Linked DNA regions of Homo sapiens: region 1 is linked to region 2. The links come from fine-mapping of genetic effects on gene expression. A gene starts in region 2. The other region holds a variant in brackets. All regions are shown on one strand. Distances are from middle to middle. Region 1 overlaps METTL9 (methyltransferase 9, His-X-His N1(pi)-histidine). Region 2 holds the start of METTL9 (methyltransferase 9, His-X-His N1(pi)-histidine).

Region 1 (15,612 bases), 21 kb before region 2:
TCCTACCAAAACAACAATCAGCTCTCATGAACCAGTCCACGCCAGCTCCAGCATCTACAGCTTACATGTAGACAACCATGTGGAGACATATGTGCTGGTAAGAACTACTTTCCTAGATACATTTAAGTGGAAAAAGGCAACAGAAGTTATTTATAATTGGGAACTGCCTGTATAATTTTTTTAATGTACATACAGACTTACATTTACATAGACTATCTTTTAAAGAATATTCAAGAAACCTGAACAAGATTGTGGAACTGGACTGGATGAGAAACTTTTTTTGTTTTGTTTGTTTTTTGAGATGGAGTCTGGCTCTGTCACCCAGGCTGGAGTGCAGTGGTGCAATCTCGGCTCACGGCAAGCTCCGCCTCCTGGGTTCACGCCGTTCTCCCACCTCAGCCTCCCCAGTAGCTGGAACTACAGGCGCCCACCACCACACCCGGCTAATTTTGTTTTTATATTTTTAGCAGAGATGGTGTTTCACTGTGTTAACTCAGGATGGTCTCGATCTCCTGACCTCATGATCTGCCTGCCTTGGCCTCCCAAAGTGCTGGGATTACAAGCATGAGCCACCACGCACAGCCCAGAAACTTTTTATTGTAAACCCTCTAGTAAGTTGCTTGAAGTATTTTTTTTTAATTACTGAATTACTTTTTAATAAAAATTACAATTTTGAAAAATTAAACATCATTAAATTTTTATTTTTACAATATAATTATCCTTCTCTTGACTTCATATCTTTCCTTCTTTGGGGGGTGCTTAAAATAATTCTCACTAGATTCAATAACCCCTAGCCAAAACTGGGTCAGTAAACCAAATAAACTGAAATTAGAATGGTATTTTTTTCATTTTTTTTCCAAATAGCAAAACTGCTGTGGTTCAACTTCAAGCCATTTACCAAAACAATTACCTAAGTAATCATTTCACCTACAACTACTTTTAGTTAAAAAAAAACAAATTAAGCCAAGTATGCAAAGCACACTCAGATATCCTCCAACAGTCCAGCATTCATGAATCTACACAGCAAAACCATTTTGCATCTCCCAGTCCTCATGGTTTCACATGGAAATCATCAGGATCTAATTAGTGACTCAGAGAAAGAAAGCAATAATAGAGTGCCGTGGCGCGCCTGCAAAATTTATAGGTCACTAAAAGTCACCCATAGCAACAAGGCTTCTTGTCTCAGGTCTGCAGTGTGTCACATGCCAGACTCCTCAGACTCAACAGGCAGCTCTGCACATCCACAATCAAGGAGCTTGTTTTCCACACTTCATGGAGACTTCCCTCTTGTCTAGTTTGACTTCCTCTCCATTTTTAGCATCAGAAACACAAGGAAATAAAATTCGTGGTTAGATTGATGTTTCTTCCCCCTGCTCTTTCATCTCCTGCTATGCCAGGAAGTAGCATTAAAGTTCTATCATGCGGTTGCCCAACAGGACACAGGAACCCAGGACCTTCCAACCTGATGACTAGTGAGTGCAATACAGAGAGCTGGAGCTGAGGCTTAATTACACAGGAAGGAGTAGCACTGAAGTAAGATCAGGTTGCTGAATCACGAAGGAGGACATTTTGCAACATATAGATGATATATATACACTCACATTTAAAAGCATTTTTTCTTTACCATGACAAACCACTCGACAACAGGAACATAAAAATGGAGATCTAAGATGGGAAAGGGGAGATCTGTTCTCTCTGCTCTTTTCCACACCCTTCTATATCGAAAGAATTCCCCATTTTCCCCATTATCAACACAAATCTGAAACCATTTGGTAAATATTAAGACAAGCATTAAATCTGAAGGCACTAAGATCTGGGGAGAAAAAACACATACAAGAAATTAAATTAATTTGTGACACCACAAATCCACACAGAATCCAATGGTTATATGAAACGGGCATTATTCCTTAAGACATAGATTTTCATATTTGATAATAATGACATTTGCAAAATCCTAATAGATTTCTTCAAAATGTCTGTGAGCTCTTAAGAGTTTCTGAAGTCAAGGTCAATCGAGGCAGTGAAATAGAAAATCTGAAGATTTTTCAGCCAGGGATGGTGGCTCGCACCTGTAATCTCAGCATTTTGGGAGGCAGAGACAGGAGGATCACCTGAGATCAGGAGTTAGAGACCAGCCTGGTCAACATGGCGAAACCCCATCTCTACTGAAAATACAAAAATTAGCCAGGCATAGTGGCATGTGCCTGAAGTCCCAGTTACTTGGGACTCAGAAGGCTGAGGCCGGAGAATGCCTGAACCCACGAGGTAGAGGTTGCAGTGAGCCAAGATCGCACCACTGCACTCCAGCCTGGGCGACAGAGCAAGGCTCTGTCTCAAAAAAATAAATGAAACACTGAAGATTTTTAAATAGTAACTTGTATTATTCATAAAATAAATAATTTTATATTAATGTACATTAACTTATGAAAATGCAGGAGACTTAAAATCATAACTTTCAAGATGACCTAAAATGCAAACCACACAAACTAAAACTATAACTTAATGTGGCATTAAGTCAGAATGGCCAGAAGTCACAGTAACTATGAAGTGATATGAAATCAACCCGTTTCTTCTAACATATTCTTCATTCAATATTGCTGAAGAGCAAGACCATGCAATCAAAAAATCAAATGTTACAGAAAGAAATGATACATGCTGCAACAACACACATGGTCTTCAAAAGAGAAAAAAACAGATAAAAGCATTTATCATTTTTAGAGTCTGGCACAAGAGATGCAAAACGGAAAACAAAACAGCCATGACATTCAGCAAGTATATACGACCAGATTTAAAGGCACTGTTTATTGCTCGATTCAGTTGTAAAGCTAATAAATAAATGGTTCAAGCTCCATTTAAAACCAGAGATACAGTTGCATTTTTAGCTTTCAATCTCAAGCAGTCAGACCCAGCTAAATATTAATTATTACCACTGCAAGGGGAATGCTAGACCTCTATAAAGTCCACCTTAAGGTGAACATTAACCAAGATGGTGTTTTACATGGATTAACTGGATTACTTTAAACTGCAGGCTATTATAAGACATACTAGACAATATTTAATTGTACACAGCACAAAATCACAAATACCAATAAACAGCTATCCTCAGTAAGAGCTAGCCTGACTGACCACACTTACCGTTTTCCACATAGGGATGAAAGGGGAGGACAAGGGCAAGGATGACCCTGCCTCTAGTTGGCTCCAAGACACTTCTGATATCTTTTAACAAAGTCAGGGGCTGATCACAGCGGTCCAGCAAGTTCAGGCAGCTGATGACATCATACTGGAACCCCGTATTCTGCCATTCATTTATACCAAGGACTCTAGAAAAATCAGAAATAACTGTATTAACATAAAGTCCCTCTAAAGACATCTTTAAAAATAACTGAGATGACAATAAAGGCTTTAACTTTGTCTTCTAAATTAAGTTCAAAATCTTCTGTTATAATTTATGTTTGCAATAATGACATGGCCAAGGAAGAGAAAAATAGCAACCATTTTTTTTTTTTTTTAATTTTTTCTTTTTTGAGACACAGCCTCACTCTGTTGCCCAGGCTGGAGTACAGTAGAGCAATCTCGGCTCACTGCAACCTCTGCCTCCCAGGTTCAAGTGATTCTCCTGCCTCCGCCTCCCCAGTAACTGAGATTACAGGCAGTTGCCACCATGCCCGGCTAATTTTTGTGTTTTTAGTAGAGACGGGGTTTTACCACATTGGCTAAGCTGATCTTGAACTCCTCACCTCAAGCGATCCGACTGCCTCGGCCTCCCAAAGTGCTGGGATTACAGGTGTGAGCTACCACGACTGGCCCATATTTCTTTAAATTTAGCATTTCACCTATTTCCAAATCTCAACACATACGAAGTTTCCTTTACAAGAACTAATCATGTTTAATAAGTATGAAGATGTAACCTGACAAAGTTATGAAACTAAAACATCAAATTCTTTTGAATATCAGTTAATGAACAAGAGTCCAGCTTTTTACCATTCATTGGAACTTAATCAAAAAATGCATCATATAATTAATGTTTTCTATTCCTAGGATCCCTTCTATTCTTAAAAATGGCTGGGAGTGGTATAAAATAATTTCCATTGATAACTTATGACCTTTGAGCACATTTCCGTTCCCAGGAAAGACATATTTCATACTTGAGAATCTTCATATCTGAATAACTATACAGAAAAGGACCGGGCACGGTGGCTCACGCCTGTAATCCTAGCACTTTGGGAGGCCAAGGCAGGCGGATCATGAGGTCAGGAGATTGAGACCATCCAGGCCAACATGGTGAAACACTGTCTCTACTAAAAATACAAAAATTAGCTGGGTGTGGTGGCGCGTGCCTGTAATCCCAGCTACCCGGGAGGCTGAGGTAGGAGAATCGCTTGAATCAGGGAGGCGGAGGCTGCAGTGAGCCGAGATCACATCACTGCACTCCAGCCTGAGGACAGAGCCAGACTCCATCTCAAAACAAAACAAAACAAAACAAAAACTATACAGAAAAGATAAAGCCCAGGACATCCTATTAACATTAAGAGCATGGTTTAAAAAAAAACCACTCTCGATCCTCAATCTCTCACTTTCATACACACGTACACAGAACACAGAGAACATTTTCAGTCCTCTACAATGTTGTTATCTCTAGAAAGGGGGAGTTTTTATATCAAGAGTCTTTGTTAGCCACACAATTAGGCAATTTTACAAATTACTTACTCCTGCTTGGTTATACCAATCAGAATGTGGTAGGTGAGATATGTTATGATAGAGACAGGTAAAAAAGGAAACATAAAAAAAGGATCTTTGGTAAACAAGTCTTTAGTAATGTTGAGCAGATACAGTAAGATAGCTCAGAAAATTCTAAAAGTATAATGAGGGTTGTTTTGAAAACCTCATTAGCATAATGATATTTAGAGCATTTCTGAATAGCAGAATTTTAAAAACACAAAGCACTTAGCTGCATTTTCTTTTCAATCTATATTTTTGTCAAACTAAAGCCTCTTCCAAATAGCAGCCTAACAAACTTCCAGGGACTAGTCAGATTCCTTACTGGTGCAGGTGTTTCATTGCACTAAATACTGTTTGAAATAAGTAGAGCATTCAGGCTTTAAAATCACTTTGTTGTACTAAGTCAACTGTAATAGCAATTTTGGAAATTCAATTTAGCTCATTCCAAGAGTTTCCAAACATTACTAAGAAGACTACTTTCAGAACAAAAATGTCATCAATTCCCATTCTAAAAAATGGAAATGAATAAAGAAAGGACTATTTGTATATATTAACGCCTTAGCTAAGCAGCCAATTTAAAGACACAAATTGTAAAACACAAATTATATATTTGATTTTTAAAAACAAAACAACAAAAAAAATCTGATGTCTATCTGCAATGAAGCAGAAGCCAAACATCATCAGCATGTTCTAATCTAGAATAATCTCACTAAACCTACCTCAGAATGAGTTTCAGATAGGTAGCCTCTGTGTTGGTAATTTTGGAAGAGAAATATATGCTCATAACACAAAAAGGTGACTAACACTAAGACAGTTAAATCTATACCTATAGAAGCTCAAGTGCATTCTTACTTCTGTTTTGTGATTTTTATTTGTAAACTCACTCAGTTCCACTGATGAAGACAAATTGCTTAGCCCCACTAAAACTGCGTATTAGCCCAGGAATCCTAACAAGTTGTCAGAATTTTCCTTTTTCTAAAACAGTATTTCTAAACCTAGAATGAGGGTATCTATTCAAGTGATTATTATTTTCAAGAAAATGAGTTAATACTTCCAGAAGGATGTAAAATATATTTCTCCTTAGAGAATGATAAAGCAGTCAGGTGCAGTAGCTAACATCTGTAATTCCAGCACTTTGGGAGGATCGCTTGAGCCTAGGAGTTTGAGACCAGCTGGGGCAACACAACAAGACCCCATCTCTATAAAAAATTAAAAATAGCCAAGGATGGTGGCACACACCTGTAGTCCTAGCTAAGCTACTTGGGCAGCTGAGGCAGGAGGATGGCTTGAACACAAGAGTTTGAGGTTACAGTGAGCTATGATTGTGTCACTGCACTCCAGCCTGGACGACAAAGCAAGATCCTGTCTCAAAAAAAAAAAAAAAAAAAAAGGCCAGGCATGGTGGCTCACACCTATAATCCTAGCACTTTGGGAGGCCAAAGCGGGCAGATTGCCTGAGCTCAGGAGTTCAAGACCAGCTGGGCAACACAGTGAAACCCCATCTCTACTAAAATACAAAAACTTAGCTGGGCGTGGCAGCATGCGCCTGTAGTCCCAGCTACTCGGGAGGCTGAGGCGGAGGCTGCACAGTAAGCCGAGATGGCACCACTGCACTCCAGCCTGGGCAACAGGGAGAGATTCCGTCTCCCAAAAAAAAAGATGCCTTGCCATCTCGGGTTGGGAGAGCTCTAAACTTAGGAAATAAGCAATCTGTATTTTGATAATTCCTAAATAAAAAATGAAACACTAACAATATAAAGAAAACTGTCTTGCTGTAAAAATCAAAACCACATCCTTTAGTTTTACAATTGGGTTTTCTGGCATAAACAATGACAACTTGCGAATACAAAGGAAAAACCTGGCCATTTTCTGTTTATTGACCTATTTTTGAAATGCAGAAACTTTGGCTGGGCGCAGTGACTCACACCTATAATCCCAGCACTTTGGGAGGCCAAGGCGGGCGGATTGCCTGAGTTCAGGAGTTCGAGACCAGCCTGGGCAACACAGTGAAACCTTATCTCTGCTAAAATACAAAAAATTTAGCTGGGTGTGGCGGCATGCGCCTGTAATCCCAGCTACTTGGGAGGCTGAGGCAGGCTAATCACTTGAACCTGGGAGGTAGAGGTTGCAGTGAGCTGAGATTGTGCCACTGCACTCCAGCCTGGTGATGGAGCGAGACTTTGTCTCAAAAAAAAAAAAAATTACAGAACCTTTATTTAAAAAGGTGTGTTTTGCTCATGCCTGTAATCTCAGCACTCTGGGAAGCCAAGGCAGGAGGACTGTTTGAGGCCAGGAGTTCAAGACTGGCCTGGTCAACATAATGAAACTCCTGTCTCTACACACACAACACACAAA[A/C]ACACACACACACACACACACACACACTCTCTCTCTCAAATTAGCCAGATATGGTAGCAGGCACCTGTAGTCCCAGCTACTGAGGAGGCTGAGGTGAGAGGATCACTTGAGCCCGGAAGTTCAAGGCTACAGTGAGCTATAATCACGCCACATGCTCTAGCCCAGGTGACAGAGAGAGACCCGTCTCTAAAAATATATATATATAAATTAATAAAAAGCCTGTTTTTCATGGCCCAGATATTGAAGAGAAATAGAAAATAGCTCTAATCTCAAAAGGAAGAAAAAAATGTAAAATTCAGCTGAAAGTCTGCCTTGCCATCTTGGATTGGGTGACCTCTAATCTTAGGAAATAAAGATACTACTTCCTCATTAAAACCTCAAACTGCACCAATAGTCACAAAATTTACCACTTTTGTGAAAATGTTTTCACTTCATACTAATATTATGAAAGGAATGCCAATCAGTATGAATTTCCCATGCAGGTCAAACTGCAGATTTTTGGCTTATGTGCTGTATATTAGGGAAAAAATTAAACCAAGTATTTTTTATGTGGTAGATATCTTTACATACCATGTACACTCCAGATATATTACTAATTTCAAACATCTGAAGTTTCCCTGAAAATTCCATTTAGGCACTTAGCATCAAAGCAAAAGAAGGCTGGGGCGGTCAATCATCTGAAGATGGGTTTAACACCTTCCTCTTCGACCCACTTCAAAGCATGGATTTTTTTAAGGGGGGGAGGTGGAATCAGATTAGGAATTCAGCCTGACTTAAGCCACTGTTATAACAAAGGTCAAAGCATTCTAAGTTTTGAAATGCCGAATTAATCTCTAACTGAAGGAAAACATGTCAATTATCACCATGCAGACCCACCAGAACCTTATCTGAGACAGCTTGCTAAAGCTAAGGGGCTTTCAAATCACTCAGTTCAAACTCACACCTTCCTTATGTCTCTTCCTATAACAACCCTAACAGCAATTTAAACACTGACAGTGATAAGGACTTAAACAGTTCAAGCTAGGAAGGTCGATCTCCCTAAGCTGTAACTCAACTTCTAAGGCGTAGCTGTGCCTGATTACACCAGAGACTATACCTATTCCTTTCCTTCCATATAAAAATCCCACAGCGTATCTGTTCACAGAAATCTTCCCTTCTCCAGGCTAAAAATCTCCATGTTTTGCAAATGCTCAAACCAGTCCTGCTCCAAAAGCTACACTGATGCTCTATCTCTAGGATTAATCTGTAAAAGTAGAAACATGTGGATAGGAAAGTGAGTGATTACATAATTTCTTCTCCTTTCTTTCTAAGGCTAACCAGACTTCCAAAAATATCACAGAGAAAGGCTGACTCCAGCTCTACCTCCCTGATTCTGCACTGAGCCAATATATAGAAATCTCCCAATCAATAAATCATACTGAAATAAGAATACCCTTCTTCCAGCCGGGTGCAGTGGCTCACGCCTGTAATCCCAACACTTTGGGAGGCCAAGGCAGGCAGATCACGAGGTCAGCAGTTTGAGACCAGCCTGGCCAACATAGTGAAACCCTGTCTCTACTAAAAATACAAAAAAAAAAAAAAAAAAAAAATTAGCCGGGCATAGTGGCATGTGCCTGTAGTCCCAGCTACTCAGGAGGCTGAGGCAGTAGAATTGCCTGAATCCAGGAGGTGGAGGTTTCAGTGAGCTGAGATCACGCCACCGCACTCCAGCTTGGGCAAGTGAAACTTCATCTCCAGAAAAAAAAAAAAGGCCCTTCTTCCTAGTCTTTCAAACTCCAGATGACCTTAAAACCAAGATTAACACTGATGACTATAAACTAAAAGCAAAACAAAACAGAAAATAGCAAGTATTGTCAAGGAGTGGAGAAACTGAAACCCTTGTACTACATTGCTGGTGGGAATGTAAAATGGTGCAGCAGCAATGGAAAAGTATTGCAATTCCTCAAAAAATTAAACCCAGACTTAGCCATGTGATCCAGCAACTCCACTTCTGGGTCTATACCCAAAAGAAGTAAAAGTAGGGGCTCAAGTCGGTATCTGTACACCCATGTTCATAGCAGCATTATTCACAACAGCCAAATGGTAGAAACAACCCAAATATCTACTGACAGATAAATGGGTAAACAAAATGTGGTACATGCATACAGCGAATTATCATTCATCCTTAAAGAAAATTTTGGGCCAGGCGCAGTGGCTCACACCTGTAATCCCAGCACTTTGGATTACTTGAGGTCAGGAGTTCGAGACCAGCCTGGCCAAATAGTGAAACCCTATCCCTACTAAAACTACAAAAAAATTAGCCAGGCATGGTGGCATATGCCTGTAATCCCAGCTACTTGGGAGGCTGAGGCAGGAGAATTGCTTGAACCTGAGAGGTAGAGGTTGTAGTGAGCCGAGATCGTGCCACTGCACTCCAGCCTGGGTGACAGAGCAAGACTCCATCTCAAAAAAAAAAAGAAAAGAAAAGAAAAGAAAATTTTGGCCCATGGTACAACATGAGTAAACCTTGAAGACATTATGCTACATGCGATAAGCCAGTCACAAGGAGCTAATGTATATAATTCCTCTTATACGAAATACCCAGAATAGTCAAATTCATAGACAAAGTAGAATGGTGGTTGTCAGGGGTTACGAGGAGGGAAAAATGGGGAGTTATTGTTTATTGGGTACAGAGTTTCCGTTTCGGAAGACAAAAATTTCTGGAGATGAATAGTGGTGATGATTATGCAACAATGTAAATGTACTTAATACCACTGAACTGTACACTTAAAAATAGTTACAACAGTAAATTCTATGCTATGTGTATTTTACCACTACTTAAAAAAATTTTTTTTGAGAATGCCACATTCTGATTAGGGAAGAAGTCCCTTCTTCTGATCTGCCTTTTCCAAGTTGTCTCTCGCTAGTGCTTTTCTTACCTATAGTGCCAACCCCTCCGCTCCAGAAAAATACTGCTACCAGAAGATTATTTCTCTACATTTCCAGTTAATTATGTATGAGATGATTTTTTAAATTTCTAATCATGGAAGATCATTTTTTATTCATATCCTTTAAATAATATACTTTCAAGAAGAAATGCATCTAAAACCAAGAAAATTATACCTGTATTTCTTTTTCTGAAGCTGCCATATCATAGTTTCAGAAAGCTCAGTGGCATAGATTTCTTCAAAATGAGGGCTCATGATTTTTGTGACTTCTCCATCTCCAGCACCTAAATCAAGAAGTCTGTGGGTTTTCCAGTCTGGATTAATTTTAAGCAGTCTCTGAAACTGATCTGGTGAAAACACAAACATTGAGCCTCTTCCTAGCAACCTGAAAGAAAAAAAGGACAAAAATGGAAGTGTCTATGCAAATTAAGCACCCCTCACATACACACACAAAGTGAATATAGTGACTCAGCACCAACAACCATAATCACTTATTACATGGTTAAGATTTTTTTTTTTTTTAGACAAGGTCTCACTCTGTCACTCAGGCTGGAGTGCAGTGGCATGATCTCGGCTCACTGCAACCTTCGCCTCCTGGGTTCAAGCGATTCTCCTGTCCCAGCCTCCTGAGTAGCTGGGATTACAGGCATGCACCACCACACCCGGCTTATTTTTTGTATTTTTAGTGGAGACAGGGTTTCACCATGTCGGCCAGGTTGGTCTCGAACTCCTGACCTCAGGTGATCTACCCGCCTCGGCCTCCCAAAGTGCTGGGATTACAGGCATGGGCCACTGCGCCTGGCCTAATTTTTTTTTTCTTTTTTTTTTTGAGACAGAGTCTCGCTCTGCCGTCGCCCAGACTGGAGTGCAGTGGCACGATCTCTGCTCACTGCAAGCTCCGCCTCCCAGGTTCATGCCATTCTCCTGCCTCAGCCTCCTGAGTAGCTGGGACTACAGGCGCCCGCCACCACACCTGACTAATTTTTTGGATTTTTAGTAGAGAAGGGGTTTCACCATGTTAGCCAGGATGGTCTCGATCTCCTGCCCTCGTGATCCACCCGCCTCTGCCTCCAAAGTGCTGGGATTACAGGCATGAGCCACCGTGCCCAGCAAAGATATTATCTTTTATGTCATTTCTATGATTAGAAGACAAAGTTAATAAAATAAGAAAATGCCTCCAGATACCATTTGTCTTTGGAGTTGCAAATAATGCCCCAAAAAAGCATGGGAGGAGGGAAATAAAAGGTGGAAAGTGGAAAGGATGACAGGGGAAGGAAGAAGAAATAAGTAAGAGATGAATGTGAAGAACTTAAGTCAAAATAGGAAGGAAAAGTGGAAGGAGTAACAGAAAACATGTTTATCAGTTGAAAAAGATGACAAGCTAACACAGCCAGACCACAGTAGCAGAGAAACCAAATAGGAAAAAAAAGTGATTTCAAATATGGAACTAAACCATGGATCAGGAAAAAAGAGCTTTAGTATAACAGATTTTTAAGAGACACTAGAGAAAAGAGGGAAAAGAGTGGTCCTTGTGATGTCGGTTAATATGCATTAAAGTAGATTCGTACTTATGTCAGTTTATATGGTTACAACTGTCTGGGTCCTATTATTTCTAAAGGTCCTAGAAAACACTCAAAACCATAGTGATGCCTTTGAAAAAAGAGACTGAGGGGAGTTTAACTGGAGATTGAAGAGAACCCTCAGAAAAGCAACTATAGGTCCAGCCAAGTCTCATGGAAGCATCACTCTGGGAAATAAAGCGCAATCCCTATTTAGGACTTGTTTTCTAGCTCTGAAATTCTAGTTTATCTAGGACAGGGATTCTCAACCCTCCTTTAAGCAGCAGAACCCTTTCTTTAAATGAAGTGGAACTCACAGATAACATAAGATCCTAAGAGAGCTGCTGCTGTTCGAATGAGGTTGGGAGCCCAGGAGCTGTGGCCAGCCCACTTCTAGGCCTTTCTCTGCAGCCTGAAGCAGTTCCTGAGGCACTTCCTCCTCAGACCCTAGAAAACAGTTTGGGGACCACTGGTCCAGGAAGTGGCAGGGAAACCTGTTCTGTACTGCTGCTCTCTGGAAACAATCATAAGGTACAGAATGTTTGCTGCTATACAGTGACTGGAAAGATGCATGCAACACGGTGCCCAAGGTAAGACCAGTTTTAGGAAAAAATACAAATAATGGAGTTCATGTAACAAAGTCCCCCTTCCTTTTCCCATTAAGGCCATAGGAGAGTTTAACCAAGTTTACAGTAAATCTTCTGCCCCCATAGAAATGCTAAAAATTTGGAGAAAGACCTCAGAGACCACTAAACGTGATGCTACCGACTACAACTGCTTACCAAAGAAAATCACGTCTCATAAAAGACAAGTTGTTTTAATCCTCAATTGTTCATATATTACAGTAAGAAAATAAGCAAATCTGAACTTGCTGAAGTAGCTGTACAAAATTTAACACAGAAACCAGTCACAGCAGAAAGAGGCTACTGGCAGCATGGCTGAGGGGAGGCGAATTTCAAATACTGATGCTGACTTGCCACAGGACCAAAAGTAAGTCACAAAATAGTTATTTTGCTTAAATTTTCCCAGAGCGTGCTTCCCAAGCCATCTCCTTGGGATGTGAGGAATCTTGACATGATAATTATAAAATTCTAGAACAAGAGGTCACCTGAGCTCAGAGCTCACAAGTTCATCTGACTGGTCTACATTTATAGGCACTAGAGGCTGGGCATGGTGGCTCACGTCTGTAATCCCAGCATTTTGGGAGGCCGAGGTGGGAGGATCTCTTGAAACCAGGTGTTTGAGACCAGCTGGGCAACATGGTGAAACCCCGTCTCTATAAAAAATACAAAAATTAGCCAGGCACGGTGGCATGAGCCTCTAGTCCCAGCTACCTGGGAGACTGAGGCAGGAGGACTGCCTGAGCCTGAGGAGGTCAAGGCTGCAGTGAGCCATGATTGTGACACTGCACTCCAGCCTAGGCAACAGAGCGAGACCCTGTCTCCAAAAAAGAAAGAAAGAAGGCACTAGAGAAAGAGGGGAAGCATTGTCCTATTTCGAAAGAACATTAGCAACAGGGGCTCTACAAAAAGATTAACACTGTCAAAAAATAAATCAAAATCCATCAAGCCCAGTGTTTATCAACCAGGATTGATTTTGCCCTCTAGGGGGCAATGGGAGTAGACAGGAGAGTTTCCAGTAATCACAAGGACCTGGGGGTACTACTGCCATTTAGTGGGCAAGGCCAGAAAAGTTAGACTTCCTGCAGTGTGGGGGGCAGTCTCGCACAATGAAAAACAGTATCACCTAAAATACTGAGCCCAATACAAAGTTTCCCATAAACACAAACCATGAAGAGATATGACCCTCTAATTTGGGTTTAACTTTAGTGTTTAATAACCATCCTAGGTTCTCTGATCACAATCTAAGTTCTCTCTAGACTTAAGAGTCTACGGAGAGATGCACCTCTTCCTTATAAAATAAACTCTGGAACATCTACTAAGTCTTTCCTTACTTGGCCTTCTCCTTTCCAAAATAAAGGAAGTTTGATAAGTATCCTAAGGTAATACAAGACAGTACTACAGTAATGATTTCTGTGAGAGATGGCCACCTGTAGTAATTATCTCCCACTGCCATGACCGGAAAGTACTGATGGGCCCTAAAATTTAGTTTTTAGCTGAGAATGGGACACAAGGCAAGAAGGACTGAAAGCAGGGTGGGTATCAGAAGGAAAAAGCAGAAGAGTTTTAAGTAAGGGAAGCCAAAAGGGGTTTATTAACTGCATTGCCTCTTTGATCAAACTGTGAAATTCTAGAGCACGGAATTTTAACCAGGGTCTTATGGGTAGAGGAAAGGGGAAATAAAAGTTTGAAGCCCCCAAAATCATACACAAAATGTTGAATGTAAGCACTTTTTGAAGAGAGGATTCCTACCTTTATCACTTTCAAAGAGCTACAGGACCCCAGAAAGGATAAGAATCTCTGCTACAGTGACTCATCTGAATTCCAAAGGAAGAATAAATGGTATAGAACAGAAATTCAATATAACCAATTTAAGGAACAAAATGTCAGACCAAGTTGTATCAACTCAACCACCCATATAAAAATAACAACTGTTTGCCAAAGCAAACGTATGGCAATTTCACATAAACAATGAAGAAAATCAACTGAGAAATCTTGAGAAATGGCTTGCGGTGCCTGAAGACTTAGGACCAGATGATACACTGGGGATCCAGTCAGTCAGTAGAAACTGCTCCAAACCTCAAGGGAAAAGAAAAGTGGGCCCAACCAGTGGTTTGAGTGGTCCAATGAGGCTTCTTAACCATTGAGCCTGTTGCTTTTCTCTTTGGCATTTTAGATTCTAGGTCCTTAGGAATGCTTGAAAACATGGCCAAGAAAGGATTGAAAAAAAAAAAAAACAAAAAAAACTCCTAAAGCTTTTTCTATGGATTTATATGAGGGAACCACTCTGGGGACAGAGAATTCCACAATAAGTTCATAAAATTCTGGTGAACCTAGACATTATTTAAGAACAGATGCAGGACTCTTCACTCAAAATAAGCCATCATCCACTGTTGGGCTGACTAATTATATCTCCCAAAAAAAATTTGCCACTGCGAAGTATGTTTAAGGCAAAGATCTTACTTTTCAGCCTAAGGGCGTAAAGCCCTCAGCTTCAGGGCTTGGTTCCAGGAGTCTTGCTACTTTGTGGTCCAGAACCAGCAGCATTCAGCATCACTGGCATCGTCTAAGAGCTTGTTAAAAATGCAGACTCTCCAGGTGCAGTGGCTCCCACCCATAATCCCAGCACTTTGGGAGGCAAAGGTGGATGGATCACTTGAGGTCAGTTAGAGACCAGCCTGGCCAACATAGAAACCTCGTCTCTACTAAAAATACAAAAATTAGACAGGTGTGGTGGTGCACACCTGTAATCCCAGCTACTTGGGAGGCTGAGGCATGAGAATTACTTAAACCCGGGAGGCGGAGGCTGCAGTGAGCCCAGATTGCCACTGCACTCCAGTCTGGGAAACAGAGCAGGACTGTCTTTAAAAAAAAAAAAAAAAAAAAAAAAAAAAAAAAAAAAGCAGACTCTCAGACCTAGCCCCTGATGTACTAACTCATAATCTGCATTTTAACAAGACCCCCAGGTGATTCCTATGTACATCAAAGCCAAGAAGCACTACCGTAAGTAACTCCCGCTATGAATAAACATACTAATGAGGCTGTCACGTTATGGTGAATTTAAAGGGCAGAACCACAGAAAGATAGAACGCTGGACCAACTGCCAAGGTTCTGACTAGTAGAAGTATTGTAGCTCAGGTAGTCAACATGCTGAACAAGATAACTTTTCTTTTTGTGTTTTTCCTTTTGTAAACCTAAGGATAAAGAAAAAAATAAATGTCCAAGATTCACTTACCCATTGATAGATGTTCTAGACATAAACAGGCTAAAAACAGATGACACAAAAGAATGATATAATTGGATAAATAGCCAGCCCGATTTCTCAATGCTGTTGTTTAAGAAGATCTGTGTTCCTTGATCAAGGTAACTCTGAACAAAGACAGCCTGGAGTGATTCGCATAATTTCTCTCTGTTGCACACATACCACTAAAA
Region 2 (15,612 bases):
CCATGAACTCCTCCTAATATTTATATATAACCTTGGTTGATGAATCACTCGTTCAAAGTAGGAATGCAATTTTCCTATAAAATTAGATTTGCTAATCAGACCAAATATGGTTAAAAGTTTTTCTGAAATTATTTTTGGAGTTTATCAACTAATCAAACATGTGATATACAACATATCCAAAATACAACATTCCCAAAATACAAAGGATTTAAGCACACTAGCAGAGTCAGAAAGTAATTTTAAAAACTGACTGATTTTAGATGATGTGGTATAATAAAAAATACATATTTGATCTTTGTCCCAGGTTCCTGATAGAGAGTTCCTAAAACCCTTCGGGAATCTCAGGGTAATAAGAGTATCTTTTGTATGCTAACAGGATGACTCCTGATAGGGGTGGGAGACCCAGACAGCTTCAGGATGGGGACCAGGATGTGGGTATAAGGTTCAAACTTTCAGCCCCACCTTCCAATCTCCAAGGATGAGAAAGGAGTTGAAGACTGAGTCTAATCATGCCTATGTAATGACACCCCTAAACTATGGGGTCCTGGGAGCTTTTAGTTTGCTGAATACATTGATATGATGGTTGGGTGGCTCATCAGAGGAAAGAGAAACTCTACACCACCTCCCACACCTCACCCTATGCACCTCTTCCACTTGGCCGTTCCCCAATTGTATCCTTTGTAATAAACCAGTAAACCTAAGTGGTTTATTATTATTATTATTATTATTTTGAGACGGAGTCTCGCTCTGTCGCTCAGGCTGGAGTGCAGTGGCGCAATCTCAGCTCACTGCAACCTCCGCCTCCACGGTTCAAGCGATTCTCCTGCCTCAGCCTCCCCAGTAGCTGGGATTACAGGCACGTGCCACCACGCCCAGCTAATTTTTTTGTATTTTTAGTAGAGACCAGGTTTCACCCTGTTAGCCGGGATGGTCTTGATCTCCTGACCTCGTGATCCACCCACCTCAGCCTCCCATAGTGCCGGGATTACAGGCGTGAGCCACCGCACCTGTGTTTTCCTAAGTTCTATGAGTCATTCTATTATAGGAAATTAGGGGGTGGGGTGGGGTAGGGTGAAGGTAGAGTTGTGGGAACTCCCAAATTTGTTCAAGGTGGACAAAAGCACTGGCAGCCTGGGAACCCAGGACTTCCAGCTGGCCTCTGAAGTGAGGGCAGTCTTGTGGGACTGAGCTCTTAACTCTGTAAAGCGTGACCCTAACTCCAGGTAGTTAATGTCAGAACAGGATTGAACAATTAAACACCCACTTGGTGATGGAAAATTAGAGAATGGCTGATGTCAGGAAAAAATGACAATACATGTAAGAATCTTTTTTCAACTTTAAGCCTTAAAAAAAGCATGCACAAACCAGATAAAGGCCAGAACTTCAAGCAGCTGTCTTATTCTCATCTAATTCACAAACTACAAAATCTTCAACAAGTATTGTGCACACAGCTACCTAACTTCAGTGTCTACACAGAGGCCTCACTAGAATGAGGGCAGTTTCCTATTCAGAAGGCAAGCCTAGGCCAGGAGCAGTGGCTCACGCCTGTAATCCCAGCACTTTGGGAGACTGAGGCAGGAGGACTGCTTGAGGCCAGGAGTTTGAGACCAGCCTGAACAACATGGCAAGACCCTGCCTCTACAAAAGATTTAGAAGCTACTCAGGAGGCCGAGGCAGGAGGATGTACTGAGGCCAGGAGTTTGAGGCTGCAGTGAGATATGATCAGGCCACTGCATTCCAACTTGGGTGACAGAGTAAGAACTTGTTTCTCAAAAAAAAAAAAAAAAAAAAAAAAAAAAAAAAAAAAAAAGAAGGCAAGCCTATTTTTACCACCCCTCAGACAACACAAGGTTTACCAGGAGGGGCATCATAAAGCAGCAGAAAATGTGTTGCCTTGAAACCAAAGCTGGGTGCAAAGCCCAACTCTATCATCCATTAACTCTGTGCTGGTGAGCAAGTCTCTTCTCTCTCTCACCCTCACTTTTCTGTATGTAAAGTGCGGATGATACCACCAACCTCCAAGAGTTCTATGTGGACTACTGGGGATAATATATTTGAAGTGCCTGGCACACAATAGAAGGCCAGTAGCTCTTCATATTTCCTTCCCCTTTCTCTCCAAGGCAAGGGCTGGTCAGAGGAGAAGTACAGTTCAAGGGAATGCCTAAAAACCAAACTGTAGGTCTAGGCATCCAGCCATTCTCAAAAGAAATGGGTAATCAAAGACCCAAGGCATTCAGGGCTACCAAAAACAATCAGAAAAGCTCCACTGCTCAGGATCTATGAACACAGAATCTTTTCTAAGTTGGCCAGACCAACTCCATCAACAGAGCTTGACAGCTAAGGATTCAAAATTCACATTCTAAGATTTTACAATGCAGTCAACTCAGTCCAGACATTTCACCATGCACACCTTGCATTTAAGCACAGCATAGGCGTAAATATTCAGACCATTCACCATTTTCCCACAAACAATATAAACTCAACCCAATAACCTCTTTATGTGAGATTTCAATGTGTACAGTGACAGGCACCCTCATATCCATGAGGGGAATCAATTAAAACAGATTAAATGGCTTCAGCTTTGATTTAATAACCAATTACTGGCAATCCTCATTGCAAATACTAAATACTCACTCCCCATAGGACAGGATAATCCTAAAATTTTAACAAAGCTTCAGAGGGTCTACACAACAGAGCTTTTTACTGGAAGCTATTAGGGTCTTCTAGGGCACCTTCAAAGAGAAACATAAAGACTCCTGGTATATCCAGCACAAGAAAGAGATTCTAGTGTTCTGTGAAACTGAAGCAAACACTTGGGGTTTCAACACAGATTATGAGGAAGCAAAGAAATCCTTTCTGAAGTCTCTTTGGTATTCAGCTGCAAAGGCCTCCAGACTCTCGAAGGCAGTTCAGAGAAGGACGCCAATCCATCAGTGTCTGTCCGGCTTAGCTGGCTGACTATCCTTGAAGCATTGTTAACTCATGCCTGACTCCAGTCTGCCTCCACAGGGTAAGTGAGGGGTAAAGGGACAGGAAACACTCTGTCCTTTAGCACAGTGTTTGGCTCTGGCTATGCTGTCCAAGTATTTTTTCATTTGGGGGAAAAAAAAGGATTTTAATTCTTTCTTGAATTCTTCATCACTTGTGGCATAGCGCAGTTCTGAGCTTATATAAGAAAGTGAAAAAATAAGTCACAAAAATATACACATACTTGCAATTTTAAGTTACAACTTAATAATTCCAGATATTGAATGTTATCTGTGCTTTTAAAAAACCTTGCAGTATGTCACCCGGAGAAATCGTTGTGGTTTGGTTCAGCGAGTTCTATAACAATTTTTTCACTCCATCAATTGAGAAGCTACTGAACCGCTATTATTACCAAGAACCTGGGGCCTAAGGGTCCTTTCAAAGTTTCAGTAGCTCCATAATAGTTGCATTAACTTTAAGCACTAGGTGCAATGCATCAAAAAGAATAGATCCTAAGTTTTTTGTTGTTGTCTTTTTAAATTCTGAGTCTGCCAACATTGCAAAGTGACAATATCTACTAGTTTCTCACTGCCTGCCTCTATTTCTTCCCAGTGAGTCAATCTACCCACCCTGCAACCTGTGATTAAGAATATGCTGTTGGAGGCTGGTTGCAGTGGCTCACTCCTGTAATTCCAGCACTTTGGGAAGCCGATGTGGGAAGATCACTTGAGGCCAGGAGTTCAAGACCAGCCTGGCCAACATGGTGAAGCCCTGTCTCTACTAAAACTACAAAAATTAACCAGGTGTGCTGGCACGTGCCTGTAATCCCAGCTATGGAGAGGCTGAGGCATGAGAACCGCTTGAACCCAGGAGGTCGAGGATGCAGTGAGCTGAGATTGTGCCACTACACTCCAGCCTGGGTGACACAGTGAGACCCTGTCTCCAAAAAAAAAAAAAAGCTGTTTGTTAAGGAAGCTGGGAATTTCTCTTGGAAAAAGTCTTTATTCTGTAAGAAGCCACGTAGTAAATGTTTTAGGCTTGCAGGCCATACAGTAGCAAATATGCTGCTATTGTAGCCAGGGAGCTCATAGACCACAGGTAAATGAATGTGGTAGTTCTCTTTCAATAAAACTTTATTTGTGGGCTGGGTGTAGTACCTCACGCCTGTAATCCCAGCACTTTGGGAGGCCCAGGAAGAAGGATCACTTGAGGTCAGGAGTTTGAGACCAGCCTAACCAACATAGTGAAACCCCATCTCTACTGAAAACTACAAAAATTATCTGGGCGTGGTGGTGTTCACCTGTAATCCCAGCTACTCGGGAGGCTGAGACATCAGAATTGCTTGAACCTGGGAGGCAGAGGTTGCAGTGAACCAAAATTGGGCCACTGCGCTCCAGCCTGGGTGACGAAGCGAGACTCCATCTCAAAAAAAAAACACTTTATTTGTAGACACTGAAATAAATTTGAATTCCATAAATGAAACTTCATGTATTACAAAATGTTATTTTGATATTTTCTTGGTAACCATTTAAAAATATAAAACTATTCTTATTTCATAGGCTGTAAAATAAGTCTGTGAGACCAGTCTGGCCTCCCAGCCACTTCCCTGCTCTAAGTGAAACCCTGCTTCTTGCTTGCCCAAAGTGAAACATAATCCCAGTTTTGAAGCTAGCACACCAAACCAAGTTACTAAAATGGCACTGCTACTACAGTTTTAGAGCAGCTTTAGCCCAAAGGAGCCTTGCCTCTCCAAACTATACTAACAAAATAGCCATTTTTAACGAATAAACATTGCCCAAGATCTCTCTTTTAACCACAGAATCCTCCATCATAATTCCTTAATAAAATAACCAGAAGGAACACTTTTGCTAAGTATGGTTCAATCAAATCCACAACCCTACTTTTATGCAACTCCAAAAGGCCCAGATGTGGCTGGCTATGGAACTCACACACCCAACTGAACACTTAGAAGACCTTGTATAAAACTATTAATCTGAAGGAGGAAAAACAGTTACAGTTACTTCACAAGCAACGAAGTTATAAGGCAAACCCAGGATCCTGGAATATTAAGTGGAAAACAAATTATCAACTCCAGCCACAGTGCAGAAAGGACAGTTTCCTACTTTATCTCATGGTGGTTTCTACACACCTTTCTTCTGTTCCTTTTAATCTTTATTCATGCACGATTATTTTCATAATATGAATGTATTCATGTCAAAATAATGTCTGGATTCATTATTCTAAGGAAAAGAGTTGACCCATCCCCCAAATATTCAGAAAACACCATATTAAGTCTTCACCCTAAAGAAATTATCTGCTGAATTGTTAGTGAAGGGGTACACACACACACACACACACACACACACACACAGAATATAAATACGGTATCTGAAATAAACGTATCTGAAACCAGTATTAGTTTTCATTAGAACTTAACAGATTCAGCTTTTAAAAGGTACAGTCAGAAAGTATCCTCTGCTGGGAGATATTCTGAGGCTATGTCTACAGCTGCAATTCCGCCTCCATACACATCACAGTGTTGAAATAGTGTTTCAATTTTAAAATAAGTGCAATTCTTTTATGAGCACTAAAAACCTACCAAGTGGCTGCAGTAGGGGTAATCATGATAAGTGTTATAAATACCAATAGCTAAGAGACTCAACCATAATCCCCCATCAATGGAGATAAATCGCTTTTTCTCCTATCCAGGACCTTATTTCTATCAACTGCTTAAAAATGTTAAAAATGACATTTCTAATTCATTGTCTACCCCATTGTTCCATATGTGACATTCTGGTAACTGTACAGTCAACGGTACAGTACCTTTGAGTTGTCTCTATAAGAATGAACTAGTGTAAGCAAATAATCCATAGGAATAAATGTGGTTTTGCAATTTAAGTTTACATACATTCCTAACCATATCATACAAGTGATCAATGATACTGATATTGCACCTAACAAACTGCAATGGCTGGAGGCTTTCAAAAAAATTTACAGAAATTTAGGATTCCTTTAACAATAGAAAAAAGCCCAATATACATATTACTAAAGACTAAATGCTACTTTTCTAAATTGCTCTATCTCCTTCTTAGACAATTCTCTACCCTCATTAAAACACATGAAATCAACCTGGGTGTAAATTCTCTGAACACCTGGCATAATAAAAAAGTAATGTAGGAAAATGAGAAATATATGAAAATGATGAGACACAAGATGATATAGGGAATAATTAATACTCTATGGAAAAGCAAAATGTATTATAAATGCTAGCTATGACAAGCCAACACTCTGGCAGAGTTCAAAAGCCTCTTTTCAATGAATTTAACATTAACTGCAAACTATGTTAAGGTCATATACGAAATATCTCACTTAATTCTACAGTTAACCTGTACACGTTTAAGTGGCGCAAGACTGAGCTAATGAAAAGCCTACCTACCCGGTCACAGCGTAACGCTCACGATGCATAACTAAAACTCCCTCCCGTCCCGTTCTGTTTTAAAAACCCTTCCTGTAAAACTTGCATAATCTTCCTCCTCATCACACACAATCTTTCTAGCAGGCTGACTAAATCCAAGTTTAAAGGAGATCTCTGCTAGGTAGGAGGGGAAGGTTCCGTAGGATGGGAGCGACAACCTGTCAAACCCATTTTTTAAGTGCTTAGGGAGAAATGTCACCCCAATCAGCCTGGAGAGTTCAATGGCTTGCGATGTACAGTTACATTTCTTCACGACCCTTTGTACGTTCTGGGATTCAACGAGACAACAAGAGGGGCTGGCTTTTCGTTTTGTTTCTCGGGGTAATGGATCTGGCCGGGTCTCTTCAGTCTCAGGCCTCGGTGCCAGGCGGGCGCCCCCAGCCACGCTCTGGCCCCAAAGTTCCCCAGTCCCGCTGCCGGGCGTCCGCAGTCACCGCCCGGGACCCAGGAACAATGCGGGGCTCCGGGCCGCTCACGATCGGGCCCGGGAGGCCATGCCCCGCCTGCGCTGCGGAACAAAAGGCGCTCGCGGGGCCGCGGCCGGGTGCCCGGGGCTCGCGGAGTCGACGCCCGGCGGGGAAGGCGCGGGGAAAACTTTCCAAGGGGCCGAGGCGGAGGGGCGAGGGCCGGGCCGCCCCCTCGCGGAGCCGTCCCGCACAATAGCCGGGCCCAGCGCGGGAAGGCCGGGCCGCCACGCCCCCGCCCCGGCCCCGGCCCCAGCCCGTACCTGGTGGTTCTCCTTCCTGCCGCCCGCGGCCGCCGCCGGCCCACCCGGGCCGCTAGTCATGTTCACGTACAGGGAGCGGGTGAGCGGGCTCCGCAGCGTCCACATCCTCCGCGCCAGCCACACGGACGCCAGGCTCAGGCACAGCCAGCCCGCCAGCAGTCTCATCGGGGGCCGCGGCCGCTCGCTCGGATCACCGCCGGCGCCGGGGCGAGGAGGAGGAGGCACCGCCGCCTCCGGCCACCGCCGCCACCGCCCGAGCTCGAGCCATCGCGGCCGCCTTGCCCATCCAGCCCCCTTCAGGGCAAAGGCTGGGGGTGGGGAGGAGCAGCCGGCGCGCAGCCTCGGCACCTCCCCCTTCCCTTCCGGCCGCGGAACGCCGCTGCCCCCTGCACCAGTTTCCATCCGGAGCACTTACGAGCGGCCGCGTCGCTTTCTCCCCCGGCGCCCTCCCTCCGTCCAATGAGCGGGCCGCTGGGAGGCGGGACAAAGGGAGCGCGCATCCGCCCGGAGCGCGTTCTCGTGTCCCGGCCCTGCCTTGGCCTCTAGTAAATGGCGGAGGTGGTTTTAATTTTTTTGAGGGCTGAGGAGATCACTTCCGAAGGCGGTAACTGCAGCCTCCCTGCCCCTCCAAGGTGGTGCTGGAAGGACCTCCAGTCTTTCCTCGCCTCATCCCACTCCACGGCGGGACTTTGACAGGGTTACCTCTCGACCCTCATCCCACTCCACGGCGGGACTTTGACAGGGTCGTGCAGTTAACCCCGGGGGCGCAAAGAGGGGAGTCATTCCTTTCGTGCATCCTGACACACACAGGTTCTTCCCGGAGACGAATGGTGCCAGTGATGGTTGCCCGCTCGGATGCGTAGTTTCCAGTTTACATTTAGAACCGACCTGCCAGACTCCCTCCTCTACTCTCCCCACCACCACGACCCGCCTGCCCCGTTCCCCAAGCCTGAGAAGTTGCTGGCTACGTGTTTCTATAAAGAATGAGTGAAAATTCTGCCTTTTGGGGAAGCTACCGCAGCTGGGGTACCCACAAGTAATGTTTTAGATGTATTGATGGCCCTGCCCAAGAATGAAGACCTCAAGTTAGACTCCTTGGCTGCCTTGTTTCCTTGAATTAGCACAGGGAAGTTGGACCCAACACTCTTAAGAGTGAACTCAGCTCTGGGAGCAGTGTTTAACCCGGATATTTATTTGATCATTTATAACACGAGGAGACCTAGCAACATTTCAGAACTGAAGGGTTAGTTACACTGTGTTCCTGTCTGCAGTTCTTCCTGCTATTATCCAAGCCACAATTAAGGAGTAACATTTCGTGGGAGTCCCTAACTTTAATACTTTCCTAGGTTTGTTTGGAAAGTGCTTTTAATTTAACTGCACCAGAAATAATGTAAATGTGTCTAAGTTCAAAACAAAAGAAGTAAGCCTTTTGGTTAATTCAGCGTTGCACATCAGAGATTTTCATTTATGAAACAGTGGGGTGGTGAGCCACAGATGGGGAACAAAATCATTCCTTACCCAACAGCTTTTTTTTTTTTTTTTTTTTGAAACGGAGTGGAGTCTCGCTCTGTCTCCAGGCTGGAGTGCAGTGGCTCGATCTCGGCTCACTTCAAACTCCGCCTCCCGGGTTCAAGCAATTCTTCTGCCTCAGCCTCCCGAGCAGCTGGGACTACGGGTGCGCGCCACCATGCCCAGCTAATTTTTGTGTTTTTCGTAGAGACGGGATTTCACCATGTTGGCCAGGATGGTCTCCATCTCTTGACCTCGTGATCCGCCTGCCTCGGCCTCCCAAAGTGCTGGGATTACAGGCGTGAGCCACCGCACCTGGCCCAACAGCTCTTTCATTAGCTTTTAAGAATCTCAGCTTGGCACCTTTGGCTAACAAGGATATCTTGTTGCCTAATGTAACAGGCTGTAACAACAAACAAAAAGGCACAGGGTGGGTGGGGTTCGGTATTTTGTGTTCTCTCTTTCCAATATACTCCCTGACTGCTTCCTGCCAAAACCCCGAAAAGCCCAAGCCTTACTAAATCTAGTTCAAACCTCTAGTGGTCCTGGCCCAAGTCATCAAAAAGGAACTATGGTAGCAAGTCCAATAACTGTTTATTTACTATGACACCTCTCCTTCCTGTCTCTTAGGATCAGTGTAACAGACAAAGCAACTCTGTCACAAAAGGAAGCCTTCATCTTTTTAAAGTGGGGGTGAAAGCAGCAGGAGTGCATAAAATGGCATATTTCCTTTCTGAAGACAAAGGAGACAAAAAGGTATGCCCCAGCTATAGAGTGAGACCACATAGCTGTAGCTGAGAGACTGCAAAATGTTATCAGATGAACAAGCAAGTAGATGGCTGCTGTAGTCAGAAGGATTTTGGGGTCAGTTGACTGCCACGAAGCCTAACAGCTCAAAGGAGCAGATTTTGTTTTATATCTGAGCAGCTGGCCTAGAAAAATAAATCACTCATACATTTAAAATACTCTATAATAACCACCAAACACTCAAACCCATGCTATTTACATTTAGCAGGCACAGGAAGAAACCAGAGCATCCGATGATCAAATGATTTGCCTGAAGGTAGCAGAGTAAATTCAATAGCTGACCTTTTCATAGAACTTGGTATCCCAGCTCGTGGTCTTTCGATCCATCTAAGAAGCTTTGCTGTCTCTTCTCAGAGAGCCTCCTGAATTACAAATGAGGAGAAACGAAAACAGCAAGAGTAAATATACGAAGCAGAAGTTCAGATTGCCCACTGGGGACAGCCCCCTTCCTTCATCTACTAGAATGTCACTACCGTATATTAAAACCTCAATTCTCCATAATGGAGACGGGAAGGGGCAAGATGACACAAAAAGCCAAATAGCCAATACTCGTTCTAACATGATCTTGAGATGCAGTTAGTAATATTCAAAAGATACACAAATGACCCTCTGCACCGAACTCTGCTCATTGACCCCAGGTGTCCCACTTGGGTCACAGCCCTGTACACAGGCCCAAAATTTTGGCGGGATCACTTTCCTATCTAGATCTCTAGGCAAAGGCTTTTTGTTATTGTTGTTCTTTGAAGTTACAAAGCTTGGCATTTTCATATTCTCTTTTCAATTACAAAGTATCATGTTAAGAGAATCCACAAGCAGAGAGTTTGGATCTGTACAAAACCTATTGATGATTGTTATCTCCTTGAAGAGATAATGATTTAAAAAGAACTCATATAGACCAGGCAGGGTGGCTCATGCTTGTAATCCCAGCACTTTGGGAAGCCAAGGCAGGTGGATGGCTTGAGCCCAGGAGTTCAAGGCCAGCCTGGGCAACATGGAGAAACCCCGTGTCTACAAAAAATACAAAAATAAGACAGGCGTGGTGACATGCACCTGTAGACCCATCTACTCAGGAGGCTGAGGTGGGAGGATCACCTGAGCCTGGGAGGCTGAGGCTGCAGTGAACTGAGATTGTGCCACTGCACTCCAGCTTGGGTGACCCTGTATCAAAAAATAAAAATAAAAATAACTCATATAATCACTTTTTTTTTCCCGAGATGGAGTCTTGCTCTGTTGCCCAGGCTGGAGTGCAGTGGCACGATCTCGGCTTGCTGCAACCTCTGCCTCTCGGGTTCAAGCAATTCTCCTGCCTCAGCCTCCTGAGTAGCTGGGATTATAGGCACCTGCCACCACGCCTGGCTATTTTTTGTATTTTTAGTAGAGATGGGGTTTCACCATGTTGGCCAGGCTGGTCTCAAACTCCTGACCTCGTGATCCGCCTGCTGCAGCCTCCCAAAGTGCTAGGATTACAGGCGTGAGCCACTGCACCTGGCCATAATCATGTTTTTATGGACAGATATTTTTTATGCTTCTTAATATTGTTTTGTATACCTTCAGAGAAAGATACAGCTTTTTCCCAGTATATTCAATAGAATGTGTCCTGTAGTTATTAAGCAATGAGCACCTCTAACAAAATTAGCAAATGTACTCAACAATTTGTTTAATTAATTAACGTAGGAGATCTTTATCTGAATTTAGTTGATACAACTTCAATCCTGTGCAATGATATCACTGTGGGCTCCAGTTGATGAATTCTAAGTCAAGGCAAAACTGCAGACAGCTTTGAAAAAAAAAAAATTAGTAGCCTAGGCCAGGCACCATGGCTCATGCTTGTAATCCCAGCTACTCAGGAGGCTGACACAGGAGAATCGCTTGAACCCAGGAGGCAGAGGCCGCAGTGAGCTGAGATCATGCCACTGTACTCCAGGCTGGGCAACACAGTGAAACTCCATCTCAAAAAAAAAAAAAAAAAAAAAAGCCTCAAGTAGCAGAATTGAACCAGGGGTTAGAAGATGTTAGTAGTTGGCCAGGTGCGGTGGCTCACACCTGTAATCCCAGCACTTTGGGAGATTGAGGTGGGTGGATCACAAGGTCAGGAGTTTGAGACCAGCCTGGCCAACATGGTGAAACCCGGTCTCTACTAAAAATACAAAAAAAATTAGCCAGGGGTGATGGCCTGCACCTGCAATCCCAGCTGCTCATGAGGCTGATGCAGGAGAATTGCTTGAACCTGAGAGGTGGAAGTTGCAGTGAGCTGAGATCACACCACTGCACTCCAGCCTGGGTGACAGAGTGAGACTCCATCTCAAAAAAAAGAAGACGTTAGTAGCAAATACAAGTAACATCGTGTGCTTCATTGGAGAACTCCCAGTGCTACTCATTAGCATGGTAGTTTATCATCTGCACTTTGAGCCAGACTATCTGGGTTTTAAGCTGGGCTCTATGCTTCTTGATTATGCAATTTGAGGCAAATTATTTGACCTCTACATGTCTGTTTCCTCATCTGTAAAATGGAAATAATAATAATGGTTACCTATTTCATAAGGATGCAGTGAATATCATGTTATATACTATAAATATAAAGGGCTTAATAAGTGCCTCAACATTTAGTAAACACTCAAAAAATGTTAATTTGTTTTCACTTTAACTTGGGTAAATCAACCTCATCTGAGCCTCTCTTTCCTCATCTGTAAACTAAGAGCCATGGTTCTGAGCTGTCTGCTTCACAAGACGTGTGTGAGAATTAGATGATCTGAGAGTTTTTTAAACTGCAAAACATCAACCAAAGTTATCATAATAAAGATGCTCAGTCCTAATGTAAAATGCCCACGTGAGGGATCTAGGTGGCCATCCTGTAAGAATCTAATGTCTGATGATCTGTCAGAGACTTTGGTCTCTGCAAAGCTACTCTCTGTAAAACATTCTCTTAGAACCCATGACGATAGCATCTCTTAATAATGTGTCTATCTTCACACATGTGTCTATCCTCATGACATTTCAAACTGAGTGGGGAAAAGAATATAAAACACAAAACTAGGCTGAGGTGGGAAGATCATTTGAGGCCAGGAATCCAAGACCAGCCTGGACAACATGTTGAAACCCCATCTCTACTAAAAATACAAAAATTAGCTGGGTGTGGTTGTGCAGGTACTTGGTAGGCTGAGGCATGAGAATCACTTGCACCCAGGAGGCAGAGGTTGCAATGATCTGAGATCGCACCACTGCACTCCAGCTTGGCTGACAGAGCAAAAGTCTGTCTCCAAAAACAAAGTAAAACAAATAAACACAGAACTATAAAAAAAAAATTCAAACCTAAAAGCAAAATCAGCTGGGCACAGTGGCTCATGTCTACAATCCCAGCACTTTGGGAGCCTGAGGCAGGCAGATGGCTTGAGCCCAGGAGTTCCACACCAGCCTGGGCAACATGACAAAATCCTGTGTCTACCCAAAAAAAAAAAAAAAAAAAAAAAAAACTACAAAAATTAGTCAGGTGAGGTGGTGTGTGCCTATACACCCAGCTACTCAGAAGGCTGAGGCAGGAGCATCAACTGAGCCTGGGAGGTCGAGGCTACAGTGAGCCATGACCACAGCACTGCACTCCAGCCTGGGTGACAGCACAAGACCATGTCTCAAAAAATAAAATAAAACTCAGGGAGTAAACTCAAGTTACCTACTTGTCAAAGATGCCTGTCTTTTTAGTAGGAAAGTCTTTTCCCCTCTGATATATAAAATTCTTCCCAGCTGGCTCACCTATGTACCCAGTCTGTACCCGCCAGGGCATTTCACCTGCTTACAGAACCTTTTGAACTCCCATGATTTCCTCCCTCATCATTCGCACATCTGTTTGTTTATGTCAGCAATATTAACCAAAAGACAAAGAAATGCCACTTTCACATATGCAATAAATATTTATTGGGTACATGGAATATACCAGGCCCTGGATTTACGGGAATAGAAAGCAAAATAAACACAATGTCTCACCTTCATAGAGCTTACCGTCTAGTAAGGAGACTGACCCGAATACATAATTACAAACTGCTGAGAGCGAGAAAGGATTTGTATACTGTTACGAGAACTTGGACAGATCTGACTTAATTAGGCGTGGAGGGCATGAGGGAAGGAGAGTGTTCAGGGAAAGCTGCCTTGAGGAAATGTGCTTTGTGGTCATTTTGACATCCCCTTGCCAAACTTGAAAGCTTCCAGATTTCCCAAGTTCCTCCTGGACTACAGGTATCCCCAATAATTGTGACAACAGAAATGGAGATAGTGCAGGACAGGCAAGTCCCAAAGTGGTGCTTAGCCCTCTGGGTTCTTGGCTTTATCAGGAAGGAATTCAAAGGCAAGCCAGAGGTAGAAGAAAACAGCTATATTGAAGAGGCTGTGTTACAGCTCCATGACTGCTCCTGCAGAGCAGGGCTACCCCATAGGGAGAGAGTAGCAGCTGAGGGTAGTTCAGTTCTGTAGCCATATTTATACCCACTTTTTTTTTTTTTTTTTTGAGATGGAGTCTCGCTCTGTCGCCAGGCTGGAGTGCAGTGGCACGATCTCAGCTCACTGCAACCTCCGCCTCCCAGGTTCAAGTGACTCTCCTGCCTCAGCCTCCTGAGTAGCTGGGACTACAGGCATGCGCCACCACATCCAACTAATTTTTCTATGTTGAGTAGAGACGGGGTTTCACCATGTTGGCCAGGCGGTCTCGAATTCCTGACCTCATGATCTGCCTGCCTCGACCTCCCAAAGTGCTGGGATTATAGGCGAGAGCCACTGTACCCAGCCTGTACTTGAAACTAAAAGTGGGAGGCTGGGCATGGTGGCTCATGCCTATAATCCCTGCACTTTGGAAGGTTGAGGTGGGTGGATCATGAGGTCAGATGTTCGAGACCAGCCTGGCCAACATGGTGAAACCCCATCTCTACTAAACATACAAAAAATAGCCAGGTGTGGTGGCAGGCGCCTGTAATCCCAGCTACACAGGAGGCTGAGGCAGGAGTCGCTTGAACCCGGGCGGCAGAGGTTGCAGTGAGCCGAGATCGCATGTCACTGCACTCCAGCCTGGGCAATGGAGCAGGACTCTGTCTCAAAAAATAAATAAATAAATAAATAATTGCATGTAGATTAAAGAGCTGTTTATGCAGAAATTTCTAGGGAATGGGCAGTAACTCCTAGGTCATTGGATCACTGCCATGGAAAGTGACAGTAACTGTCGAGTGTTGCCATGGCAGTGGTAAATCGACATGGCACACTGGTGAGCATGTCTGATTAAAACTACTTTCGCCCAGGCCCTGTTTTGGCTAGTTCTTAATCTGGTCCAGTGTCCACTCCAGTGTCCGAGCTCAACCTCTGGAGTAGAGTCCCACCTGCTACCTCCGACTGCTCATCAGAGCCTTCTAGAATGTGAGGAATCCCAGTGTCCCTCACATACACTCACAGAGTCCTGGAGAAAACGAAATGAGTTGTCTGGGCAGCTGTCAGCACAATCCCCTATATATATAGTCAGCTCTCAGATAGTAGCTGTGGTGGTTATTATGGAATCATAAGGCAGATGTAAACCTAGCTCTCCTTGGACAAGTTACTTAAGCAGTCCAAGAGATGAACAGCCATCTACTTTAAACTTAGTCTACTATAAGACAAATTAATTAGGGAGAGTCCTTCAACCTAAATCCTGGGCTCCACCAAATGAATCAGTTTCTCCAACAGAACTGTGTGAATTAGGCATTTTATTTTATTTAATTATTATTTTTTGAGACAGGGTCTCTGTTGCCCAGGCTGGAGTGCAGTTGCACAATCTCAGCTCACTGCAACCTCCGCCTCCTAGCTCAAGCGATCCTCCCACCTCAGCCCCCCAAGTAGCTGGGGCTACAGGCACACACCACCATGCCCGGCTAGTTTTTTATGTTATCTTATAGAGACACAGTTCGCCATGTTGCCCAGGCTGGTCTTGAACTCCTGGACTCAAGTGATCTGCCTGCCTCGACCTCCCAAAGTGCCAGGATTACAGGCATGAGCTACCATGCCTGGCCTCTAAATTAGGCATTTTAATACACATGTTTTGTACCACCTAAGTTGTGCTTTTTTTTTATTTTTATTTTTTCAAGATGGACTTTCACTCTTGTTACCCAGGCTGGAGTGC

Evidence for each region.
Region 1: its variant is fine-mapped to the expression of METTL9 in blood mononuclear cells (TOPMed, PIP above 0.99).

The regions. Positions count from the first base shown.
Region 1 is chr16:21,612,639-21,628,250 of GRCh38, reverse strand. METTL9 (methyltransferase 9, His-X-His N1(pi)-histidine) reads right to left here. Exons shown (of 5, transcript NM_016025.5): 2 at 15,416-15,606; 3 at 10,177-10,386; 4 at 3,136-3,320. Among named protein-coding and RNA genes, the nearest start is that of METTL9, 21 kb to the right of the region's middle. The variant A/C (reference allele first, on the strand shown) is at 7,075.
Region 2 is chr16:21,591,456-21,607,067 of GRCh38, reverse strand. It overlaps METTL9 (methyltransferase 9, His-X-His N1(pi)-histidine), which reads right to left and starts at 7,491. Exons shown (of 5, transcript NM_016025.5): 1 at 7,170-7,491. The coding sequence starts at 7,334. It overlaps LOC101927814 (a long non-coding RNA gene), which reads left to right and starts at 7,683. Exons shown (of 3, transcript NR_110930.1): 1 at 7,683-8,412; 2 at 9,309-9,434. RefSeq lists an enhancer at 6,212-6,776 and a silencer at 6,885-7,504.